Linked DNA regions of Homo sapiens: region 2 is linked to region 1. The links come from fine-mapping of genetic effects on gene expression. Tissue or cell type: whole blood. Region 1 holds a variant in brackets; the other region holds the start of a gene. All regions are shown on one strand. Distances are between the middles of the regions.

Evidence for each region. PIP is the estimated chance that this variant, and not a neighbour inherited with it, causes the effect.
Region 2: it holds the start of TYK2, and the variant in region 1 is fine-mapped to the expression of TYK2 in whole blood (INTERVAL, PIP above 0.99). The same link has a PIP of 0.9 or more in nasal epithelium.

What each region holds. Positions count from the first base shown.
Region 1 is chr19:10,351,230-10,356,229 of GRCh38, reverse strand. It overlaps TYK2 (tyrosine kinase 2), which reads left to right. Exons shown (of 25, transcript NM_003331.5): 19 at 1,621-1,718; 20 at 1,996-2,188; 21 at 2,584-2,702; 22 at 3,132-3,304; 23 at 3,679-3,796. Among named protein-coding and RNA genes, the nearest start is that of ICAM3, 14 kb to the right of the region's middle. RefSeq lists a silencer at 2,269-2,318 and an enhancer at 2,220-2,983. The variant G/A (reference allele first, on the strand shown) is at 2,366.
Region 2 is chr19:10,378,260-10,384,644 of GRCh38, reverse strand. TYK2 (tyrosine kinase 2) reads left to right here and starts at 4,073. Exons shown (of 25, transcript NM_003331.5): 1 at 4,073-4,265; 2 at 4,866-5,030; 3 at 6,219-6,385. The coding sequence starts at 6,239. RefSeq lists enhancers at 3,444-4,107, 4,016-4,175.

The sequences.
Region 1 (5,000 bases):
TTTTTGTATTTTTAGTAGAGGTGGGGTTTTGCCATGTTGGCCAGGCTGGTCTCAAACTCTAGACCTCAAATGATCTATCTGCTTCAGCCTCCCAAATTGCTGGGATTACAGGCGTGAGCCACTGCGCCTGGCCTCCTTAATGTTTTGTCTGGGGAGAGACACAACTTCTTTGGATTAGAGAATTAGACCACTGCAGTTTTTTTTTTCTTTTTAAAAAAGTTTTGTATTGTTCTCTTTAAAAAATTAATATGCTCTTTTTTCTTTTTTTTGAGACGGAGTCTCACTCTGTTGCCAGGCTGGAGTGCAGTGGTGCAATCTTGGCTCACTGCAACCTCCGTCTCCCAGGTTCAAGTAATTGTCCTGCCTCAGCCTCCTGGGTAGCTGGGACTACAGGCGCCCACCACCACGCCGGGCTAATTTTTGTATTTTTAGTAGAGACGGGAATTCACCATGTTGGCCAGGATGGTCTCAGTCTCTTGACCTCGTGATCCACCCGCCTCGGCCTCCCAAAGTGCTGGGATTACAGGCATGAGCCACTGCGCCTGACCTATTTTCTTTTTTTTTTTCTTTCTTTCTTTTTTTTTTTTTTGAGATGGAGTTTTGCTCTTGTTGCACAGGCTGGAGTGCAATGGCACGATCTCGGCCCACTGCAACCTCCGCCTCCTGGGTTCGAGCAATTCTCCTGCCTCAGCCTCCCGAGTAGCTGGGATTACAGGCGTCCACCACCACACCCAGCTAATTTTTGTATTTTTAGTAGAGACGGGGTTTCACTGTGTTGGCTAGGCTGGTCTCAAACTCCTGACCTCAGGTGATCCACCCTCCTCAGCCTCCCAAAGTGTTGGGATTACAGGCGTGAGCCACCACGCCCGGCCTAATATGCCATTTTCAACTGGTCATATCACATTTTTCTTTCTCTTTTTTGTTTTAAAGACTAGGTCTTGCTGTGTTGCCCAGGCAGGAGTGTGGTGGTTATTCAGAGGCACGATCATGGCTCACTGCAGCCTGAGACTCCTGGGCTCTAGGGATCCTCCTGCCTCGGCCTCCCAAAGTGCTGGGATTACAGGTGTGAGCCACCACGCCTGGCCAGTTTTTCTCTTTTCTCTATGAAATATCTGTGCCCTCTACCCAATCTCGGAACTTCCAGATGTCAGGTTTTTCTGTTTTTTCTTTTTCTTTCTTTCTTTCTTTTTTTTTTTTTTAAAGACAGTGTCTCTCTGTGGCCCAGACTCACTGCAGCCTCAAAACTCCTGGGCTCAAACGATCCTCCTACCTCAGCCTCCTGAGTAGCTGGGACCACAGGCATGCACCACCACACCTGGCTAATTTTTTTTTTTAACTTTTTTGTAGAGAGGGGGTTTCACCATGTTGTCCAGGCTGGTCTTGAACTCCCGGGCTCAAGTGATCTTCCCGCCTCGGCCTCCCAAACAGGTGTCAGTTTTGATGCAGCCAACTCTGCATCATTTTGTACAATAAGTGGACTCTTTCAGCTGTTGCAGGAAAAAGTTTTCTTACCTCTAGAATCGGATCCTGGGGTAGCTGTGGCTGGCTTTGTGACTCCCAAGTGTGGGCCTGCTGGGGAAAGGATCGGGGTCAGGCCTTTACCCACCGCAACTCTTCCAGATCTTGCTGACGTCTTGACTGTGAACCCGGACTCACCGGCGTCGGACCCTACGGTTTTCCACAAGCGCTATTTGAAAAAGATCCGAGATCTGGGCGAGGTGAGGGACGGGCCTGAGCTGCTAAAAGGCCCGCCTGGTCGGGAAGGAGTTTGGGGGTTGAGGATAAATTCCTACCTAAGGTGATTCTCAGGAGATGTGGGTGGGACCCTCTGCTTTGAGGGAGGCCTAGGTGCCAAGGAGTCTTAATAGAGCGGAGTAGGCGGGGCCTGGGGTATTCCGAAAGGATCTGCCTGGAGGAGTGGCCCGGGAAATCGGGGGTTGGGGAGTGGTGCAGGGATTGGGGAGGTGGAGCTGACCCTCGTGCGCTCCCGACCAGGGTCACTTCGGCAAGGTCAGCTTGTACTGCTACGATCCGACCAACGACGGCACTGGCGAGATGGTGGCGGTGAAAGCCCTCAAGGCAGACTGCGGCCCCCAGCACCGCTCGGGCTGGAAGCAGGAGATTGACATTCTGCGCACGCTCTACCACGAGCACATCATCAAGTACAAGGGCTGCTGCGAGGACCAAGGTGGGCGGGACCCGGCGAGTCCTAGAGACTTGAGGGGGCGTGGTTAGAGCGTGGGTGTGGCCTTGTGGGCGGGGCCAGTCTGGCCTAGCCAATTAGAGACTCTCAACCCCAGGCTGCAGTACGCGGTTCTTGGCATCTGGGTGAGCGTGGCTGGGCTGCCTCCTTCCCATCTGGGGG[G/A]TGCTACCTGCTGGGGCCAGGATGGACGGGAGCCACCAGCAGCTCCCTCAAGTGAGAATGGGGTTCTGGATGGGTCCATCCCACCTGAGAACTGGGTCTAGTGTGCGCGGGTCTTGGCCTTCCCTCCCGACCTTGGAGGGGCTCTGCTGGGCTCAAGGTAGGCGGTCCCCGGCCCGCCCTCTATCGTCCCCCACCGGGGCCGCCCCTCTCCGCGGCAGGCGAGAAGTCGCTGCAGCTGGTCATGGAGTACGTGCCCCTGGGCAGCCTCCGAGACTACCTGCCCCGGCACAGCATCGGGCTGGCCCAGCTGCTGCTCTTCGCCCAGCAGATCTGCGAGGTTGGTCGGCCCCGCCCCTGCTTCTGGAGCTTGCCCCTTCCTCTTCAGCTTGGGCTGGCCTGAGCGATCCGGTGCAGTCTGCTCTCACGCTCCGCCCCTGCTCGTTTGCCCAGGCTGTCTTGTCCTTGCACTGACCTCCGAACTGTTTGGCTTGCTTGGCCACACCCCCTCCTCCCAAGGGACCACGCACAGCCGGCTCGGCCCCTCCCAACTCGCCCTCCTGCCCAGCTTTGCTCGTCTAGCCCCGTCCCTGCTTTCTGGCTCAGCCTCCTTTTGCTTGGTGCCACGTGCCATCCGGCCCTCTCCAGCGGCCGGGTAGCCACCGGCCTGACCTGACTGTCCCCCAGCCCTCCTGGCTGCTCAGGTCCTGCCGCCGCCCCCGGCCGAACCCCGCCCCACTGAAACTCACGAGCCCTGCCCCGTCCCCAGGGCATGGCCTATCTGCACGCGCAGCACTACATCCACCGAGACCTAGCCGCGCGCAACGTGCTGCTGGACAACGACAGGCTGGTCAAGATCGGGGACTTTGGCCTAGCCAAGGCCGTGCCCGAAGGCCACGAGTACTACCGCGTGCGCGAGGATGGGGACAGCCCCGTGTTCTGGTGACCAGGCGGGGTGCAGTCTGAGGGGGTGCTGGGGTCACTTGGAACAGGCAGGGTGGAGTAGACGGATGCTGGGTATCATGATAGGGCATGATCCCAGTGAAGCGCGGCGGGGCCTAGCGGTGCGGGGGTGGGGCCTATGGAGGCAAGGGGCGGTGTATAGAGTGCGGCTTGGCCTGGTGGGCGGGGTTAACCCGGCCTAGCCAATGAGCGGCCTAGCCAATGAGCATATCACCCCGCTCAGGCTGCGCTCTTAAGGGTGGGTCCCAACTGAGCCCAGAGGGTCCTTCAGTCTCAGGTGAGGGCTTCAGCCTGGTCTGATCCCCAAGCCCTCAGTGCAGCCCCCCGTGGCCTGAGTGCCCCCCTCCCCCTAGGTATGCCCCAGAGTGCCTGAAGGAGTATAAGTTCTACTATGCGTCAGATGTCTGGTCCTTCGGGGTGACCCTGTATGAGCTGCTGACGCACTGTGACTCCAGCCAGAGCCCCCCCACGGTGAGAGCCAGGCCCGCAGCCCCACCGGGAGTTTGCTAGAGCAATTAGAAAGGCATAGGCTGGGCCAGGCGCGGTGGCTCAAGCCTGTAATCCCAGCACTTTGGGAGGCCGAGGCGGGCGGATCACGAGGTCAGGAGATCGAGACCAACCTGGCTAACACGGTGAAACCCGTCTCTACTAAAAATACAAAAAAAATTAGCCAGGCGTGGTGGCGGGCGCCTGTAGTCCCAGCTACTCAGGAGACTGAGGCAGGAGAATGGCATGAACCCGGGAGGCGGAGCTTGCAGTGAGCCGAGATCTCCCGACTGCACTCCAGCTGGGTGACAGAGCGAGACTCCGTCTAAGACAGGACAGGACGGAGAGAGAGAGAAAGAAAAGAAAGGAAAGAAAGGCATAGGCCGGGCGCGGTGGCTGACACCTGTAATCGCAGCACTTTGGGAGGCCGAGGCGGGCAGATCACGAGGTCAGGAGATCGAGACCAGCCTGGCCAACATGGTGAAACCCCGTCTCTACTAAAAATACAAAAATTAGCCGGGCGTGGTGGCAGGTGCCTGTAATCCCAGCTACTCAGGCGGCTGAGGCAGGGAGAATTGCTTGAACCCGGTAGGCGAAGGTTGCAGTGAGCCGAGATCATGCCACTGCACTCCAGCCTGGGTGAAAGAGCGAGAGACTGTCTCAAAAAAAAAATTCTGGACGGTAAGAACAATCTGCTGTGAGGCTTAATAATAACGGCAAACACCTGACTCACGCTTACTCTATGAATATTAGTTTAACGTTCACAGTAATCCCAGGTGGCAGATGTTATTACCCTATTTTACGGATGAGAAAACAGGCCCAGAGAAGTGAACTCAAATTCAAAGTCACACAGCTGAGAAGTGTAAGAGGTGGGATTGGAACCCATGCAGTCGATTTCATGAAGTTGCAGAGTGATTTCTTTTTCTTTTTTGAGATGGAGTTTCACACTTGTATCCCAGGCTGGAGTGCAATGGCACAATCTCGGCTCACTGCAACCTCCGCCTCCCAGGTTCAGACGATCCTCCTGCCTCAGCCTCCCAAGTAGCTGGGATTACGGGCGCCTGCCATTATGCCCAGCTAATTTTTGTATTTTTAGTAGAGATGGGGTTTCACCATGTTGGCCAGGCTGGTCTCGAACTCCTGACCTCAGGTGATCCACCCACCTCAGCCTTCCAAAGTGCTGGGATTA
Region 2 (6,385 bases), 28 kb before region 1:
TGTGCTCAAAGAAACTTCCCAGGGGCTGGGCACGGTGGCTCATGCCTGTAATCCCAGCAGTTTGGGAGGTCAAGGCCAGAGGTCCACTTGAGCCCAGCAGTTTGAGCCCAGTAGTTTGAGACCAGCCTGGGCAACATAGTGAAAACCCATTTCTAAAAAAATTACACACACACAAAAGTTAGCCAGCCGGCCAGGCGAGGTGGCTCACACCGGTATTCCCAGCACTTTGGGAGGCCAAGGCGGGAGGATCACGAGGTCAGGAGATCAAGGCCATCCTGGCCCACATGGTGAAACCTCGTCCCTACTAAAAAATACTAAAAAATTAGCCGGGTGTGGTGGCATGCGCCTGTAATCCCAGCAGTTTGGGAGGTCAAGGCGGGAGGACCACTTGAGCCCAGTAGTTTGAGACCAGCCTGGGCAACATGGTGAAAACCCATTTCTTTTCCTTTTTTTTTTTTTGAGATAGAGTCTCACTCTGTCGCCCAGGCTAGAGTGCAGTGGCGCGATCTCAGCTCACTGCAAACTCCGCCTCCCAGGTTCAAGTGATTCACCTGCCTCAGCTTCCCAAGTAGCTGGGATTATAGGCACCCACCAACACACCCGGCTAATTTTTGTATTTTTAGTAGAGACGGGGTTGGTGGAAGCCCATTTCTATAAAAAATACACACACACAAAAGTTAGCCAGGCGGCTGGGCGCGGTGGCTCACTTCTGTAATCCCAGCACTTTGGGAGGCCGAGGCGTGAGGATCATGAGGTCAGGAGATTGAGGCCATCCTGGCCAACATGGTGAAACCCCATCTCTACTAAAAAATACAAAAAAATTAGCTGGGTGTGGTGGCACACGCCTGTAATCCCAGCTTCTCTGGAGGCTGAGGCAGAAGAATCGCTAGAACCTGGGAGGCAGGGATTACAGTGAGCCGAGATCGTGCCACTGCACTTCAGCCTAGCAACAGAGCAAGACTCCGCCTCAAAAAAAAAAAAGTTACCCAGGCATCGTGATGCACATCTGTAGTCCCAGCTACTCAGGAGGCTGAGGTGGAAGATTGTGAATGGTGAATCTGGGAAGTTGAGACTGCAGTGAATTGAGATCACAGCACTGCACTCCAGCCTGGGCAACAGAGCGAGATTCTTGTCTCAAAAAAAAAAAAAAAAAAAAAAAAAAGAAAGAAAGAAAGAAGAGAAACCCAGCTGGGCGCGGTGGCTCACATCTGTAATCCCAGCACTTTGGGAGGCCAAGGCGGGTGGATCACCTGAGGTCAGGAGCTCGAGACCAGTATGGCCAACCTGGCCAAACCCTGTCTCTATTAAAAATACAAAAATTAGCCAGGCGTGGTGGTGCACGCCTGTAATCCCAGCTACCGGGGATGCTGACGCAGGAGAATTGCTTGAACCTGAGAGGCAGAGGTTGCAGTGAGCCAAGATTGCGCCACTGCACTCCAGCCTGGGCAACAGAGCAAGACTCTGTCTCTTTAAAAAAAAAAAAAAAGAAAGAAACTTCCCATGAAATGTCAGGTTGCAATAAGGACTCTGAAGAAAATACAGCAGAGCCCAGGAGGTCAAGTTGCCCAGGCTGGAGTGCAGTGGTGTGATCACGGCTCACTGTAGCCTCAACCTCCTGGGCTCAAGCAATCCTCCCACCTCAGCCTTCGGAGTAGCTGGGACTAACTAATTTTTTTTCCCCCCGAGATGGAGTCTCACTCTGTAGCCCAAGCTGGAGTGCAGTGGTGGGATCTCAGCCCACTGCAACCTCCACCTCCTGGGCTCAAGCGATTCTCATACTTCAGCCTTAGACTAATTTTTTTTATTTTGGGTAGAGATGGGGTCTTGCTATATTGCCCAGGTTGGTCTTGAACTGGGCCCAGACAGTACTCCTTCTTTAGCTCCCTGAAGTGCTAGGTTTATAGGGATGAGCCACTGCATCCAGCCAGGACAAGTCTCTATCAGCATTTTATTTTATTTTATTTTATTTTATTTTTGAGACAGAGTCTCACTCTGGCGCCCAGGCTGGAGTGCAGTGGCGCAATCTCGGCTCACTGCAAGCTCCGCCTCCCCGGTTCACGCCATTCTCCTGCCTCAGGCTGCCACTACGCCCAGCTAATTGTTTGTATTTTTAGTAGAGACGGGGTTTCACCGCCTTAGCCAGGATGGTCTCGATTTCCTGACCTCATGATCCGCCCACCTCGGCCTCCCAAAGTGCTGGGATTACAGGCGTGAGCCACTGTGCCCGGCCTCTATCAGCATTTTCTTTCTTTTTCTTTTTCTTTTTTTTTTTTTGAGACAGAGTTTAGCTCTTGTTGCCCAGGCTGAAGGGCAATGGTGTGATCTCGGCTCACTGCAACTTCTGCCTCCCAAGTTCAAGCGATTCTCCTGCCTCAGCCTCCTGAATAGCTGGGATTACAGGTGCCCACCACCATGCCCAGCTAATTTTTGCATTTTTAGTAGAGACAGGGTTTCACCATGTTGGCCAGTCTGGTCTTGAACTCCTGACCTCAGGTGATCCGCCCGCCTCCACCTCCCAAAGTGCTGGGATTACAGGTGTGAAAGAGACCATTCCCGATCTCTTTCAGCATTTTCATACTGAATGTCCACAGCTGCCCTGTGAGGAGGCTTTTTACCCATATTTTCTGACTCAGAGAGAAGCAGCCACATGTCCCTTGGCCATGGCAGTTAAGACCAACTCCATGGAGCTGGGTGTCTTAGCTCACATCTGTAATCCCAGCACTTTGGAAAGCCAAGGCAGGATGATTGCTTGAGGCCAGAAGTTCAAGACCAGCCTGGGCAACATAGCCAGACCCCATCTCTACAAAAATTTAAAAATTAGCCACAAAATTTAAAAATTAACAACAAAAGGGCCGGGTGCGGTGGCTCACGCCTGTAATCCCAGCGCTTTGGGAGGGTGGATCACGAGGTCAGGAGTTCGAGACCAGCCTGGCCAAGATGGTGAAATCCCATCTCTACTAAAAATACAAAAATTAGCCGGGCGTGGTGGCGGGCGCCTGTTGTCCCAGCTACCCAGGAGGCTGAGGCAGGAGAATCGCTTGAATCCGGGAGTCTGAGGTTGCAGTGAGCCGAGATCGCAGCATTGCACTCCAGCCTGGGCGACAAGAGCGAAACTCCATCTTAAAAAAAAAAAAAAAAAAAAGTGGAAGATGAGGAAGTTGATCAGACATCAAGGATGAGCGGATGACTTAATAGGCTTCTTTGCTAAGACTTGGCTGGGCAGGTGAAAGACAAAGTCGAGGAGTGGTTATGGTGTGGCACAGAAGAAGGGTCAGAGGACGGTCTTTGTTACCTCTTCATGCCTGAGTTTCTTCCTCTGTGAAATGGGGATAATAAGAGCCGCCATACAGGGAATTGCTGCTAGGATCAAATGAGATAATGTATGTGAAACGCTCTGGCTGTAGGCTTCTCAGCAAATGGGCACGACTTGCGGAGTGGGGATTTGAATTCACGTCTGGCGGGATGTCCAAGCTGCTACCCTGACCGCTAGGGAGCTTCAGAGGACAGGGCTGCAGGTGATCAGGAAGAGGACTGGGGCAGGTGGGCGAGGAATGCCTCCCAGGAGTGAAGGAGGGGGAATTCTAGTCAGCAGGATGGAGTCGGCCAGGTAGAAACGAGGGAAAGGAGACAGGACCGGATGGAACGGGGAAGCCAAAGGGCAGGGCGTCGGAGGGTTGAATGGTGGCCGGTGCAGCTTTGAACACCGAGGTGAGGACATGCAGCTGTGTCCTAGGGTCAGGACCGTACACGCCTGACCCAATTCCACAGCACGGAGGGGAACTCCAGGATCCGGCCGCGTTGCCCACACACTTCGCTCTCCCTCCCGCCTCTCGCAAGCCCCTCCCCCGTCTCCGTCCACCGAGTGCCAGCCAATAGCAGAAGCGACAGCGCATCTGGGTGCCGACTCAGCCAATCGCGGCTGAGTGACGAATGAGCCCCAGGACCAATGAGAGTGCCGCCACCATGGCAAAAAAAAAAAAATCCAATGGTGACGAGCAGGGAGAACAGAGCAGCTGCCAATGGGCGTGTGCGTTTCAGGCGGCCAATGGGAGGAGGCGTCTCGGCGGGGGACAAGCAGTAGCTACCCGCGGGAGCGGGGAGGGGTCCGGGTTCGAGCTTGTGTTCCCCCGGAAGGGTGAGTCTGGACGCGGGCGCGGAAGGAGCGCGGCCGGAGGTCCTCAGGAAGAAGCCGCGGGGACTGGCTGCGCTTGACAGGCTGCACTTGGATGGGAGCACCTGGTGCCTCGGGACTGCTCCGATGCCCGGTGGGTGCACATCCCAGTTCCCGCCGTTGCCGGCCGGGTTTAGAGGTTTTGGGGGGAGGACATGGGGGCGTGCAGCCTTCCCAGTTGCAAACTTCACTCCGACCCTGTCTTCAAAGCTGGGTCTGGGTCCAGTGGGGACGAGAAAGGAGGAAGGAGGAAGTAGGCTCCGCGAAAGCCCCATCCCCGGGATCTCATCTATAACATGAATAGGTATTAATGGCAAAGGCTAATTAAGCGCTTACTGTATACCAGGCACTTTCTCTGCCTCCTCGCGTTAAATCCTCCCAGCAGCCTTTTGAGGTAGACACTGTTACATGCCCATTTTCCAGATGAGGAAACCAGCAACATGGGTGGAAGTGACAGCCCCTCCACTTCCATACTGGCGCCCTCAGGAGGCTCAGGCCCTGGATTGGGGGGATGGAGCTGGACATAAACTCTCCTAGGCTTTGGGGAGTCAACAGGGACTGAGGTCACTCATGGGGGTAAATGTGGGAGAGGAGAATTGTGGCCTGAAAGAGGCCATCACCACGATGAAACTAATAACAATTATGTTATTCTTGTTTTGGTCATATTTGTTCTTTTTGTGTGTGCCTGAATCAGGGTCTGTGCTGAATGTGTAATATGCGGAACTATATTGAAACATTACAACCATCTTTTGATGGCAACACCCTGAGGACCTCCCTTTTCCAGATGGGGAAACTGAGGCCCAGAATTGCTAAGTGGCTTGCTTGAGTTGACACAGGGAGCTCCAGGACTCACCCTCAGGTATGTTTGACCACATCTGCCTGTCTGGTTATTTTGGGGAGGTGTGTTAAGAGCAGATTTTTATTTTACTTTTTATTTATTTATTTATTTATTTATTTATTTATTTATTGTATTTTAGTAGAGATGGGGTTTCACCATGTTGGTCAAGATGGTCTCAATCTCCAGACCTCGTGATCTGTCCGCCTTGGCCTCCCAAAGTGCTGGGATTACAGTCATGAGCCACCGCGCCTGGCCCTTTTTATATATTTTTATTACTTATTTATTTATTTATTTATTTATATTTTTAGAGTCAGGGTCTCACTCTGTCACCCAGGCTGGAATGCAGTGGTGCGATCACTGCTCACTGCAGCCTCCAACTCCTGGGCTCAGGAGATCCTCCCACTTCAGCCTCCCGAGTAGCTTGGAGTACAGATGTGCACCCCCACGCCTGGCTAAATTTTAAAAATTTCTTGTAGAGGCCGGGCACAGTGGCTCACGCCTGTAATCCCAGCACTTTGGGAGGCCGAGGCGGGTGGATCACCTGAGGTCAGAGGTTCAAGACCAGCCTGGCCAACATGGCAAAACCCTGTCTCTACTAAAAATACAAAAATTAGCCCGGTGTGGTGGCAGGCGCCAGCTACTCAGGAGGCTGAGGCAGGAGAATCACTTAAACCCAGGAGGCAGAGGTTGTGGTGAGCAAGATTGTACCATTGCACTCCAGCCTGGGCAACAAGAGTGAAACTCTGTCTCAAAAATAAGATAAGATAAGATAAGATAAGATAAGATAAGATAAGATAAGATATAAAATAAAACGTCTTGTAGAAACAGGGTCTTGCTATATGGCCTAGGCTGGTCTCGAGCTCCTGGGCTCAAGCAATCCTCTTGCCTCAACATCCCAAAGTCCTGGGATTAGAGGCGTGAGCCACTGTACCTGGCCAGAGCAGATTTTTATATCTGTGTCAATTTGTGGAAAGAGAGGAGGGTTCAGTGTTATTGTTGATGAGAGATCTAGGTGGGGATGCATACCCCAACCCTGTCCAATAAATGTGGAAAACGAGACTCAGAGAGGGAATCGGGTCTCTAATGTCATGCCAAGATGGGAGCCCAGAATCTTCCCCTCAGGCCTTAGCTGGGGTGGGTGGAAGGTTGAAGAGCTAACAGGGGTCTCTGGGCTGAGACTTGGGAGCTGACAGATTGTCCCCTTTCCAGCTGAGCCACCTGCCGGGAGCATGCCTCTGCGCCACTGGGGGATGGCCAGGGGCAGTAAGCCCGTTGGGGATGGAGCCCAGCCCATGGCTGCCATGGGAGGCCTGAAGGTGCTTCTGCACTGGGCTGGTCCAGGCGGCGGGGAGCCCTGGGTCACTTTCAGTGAGTCA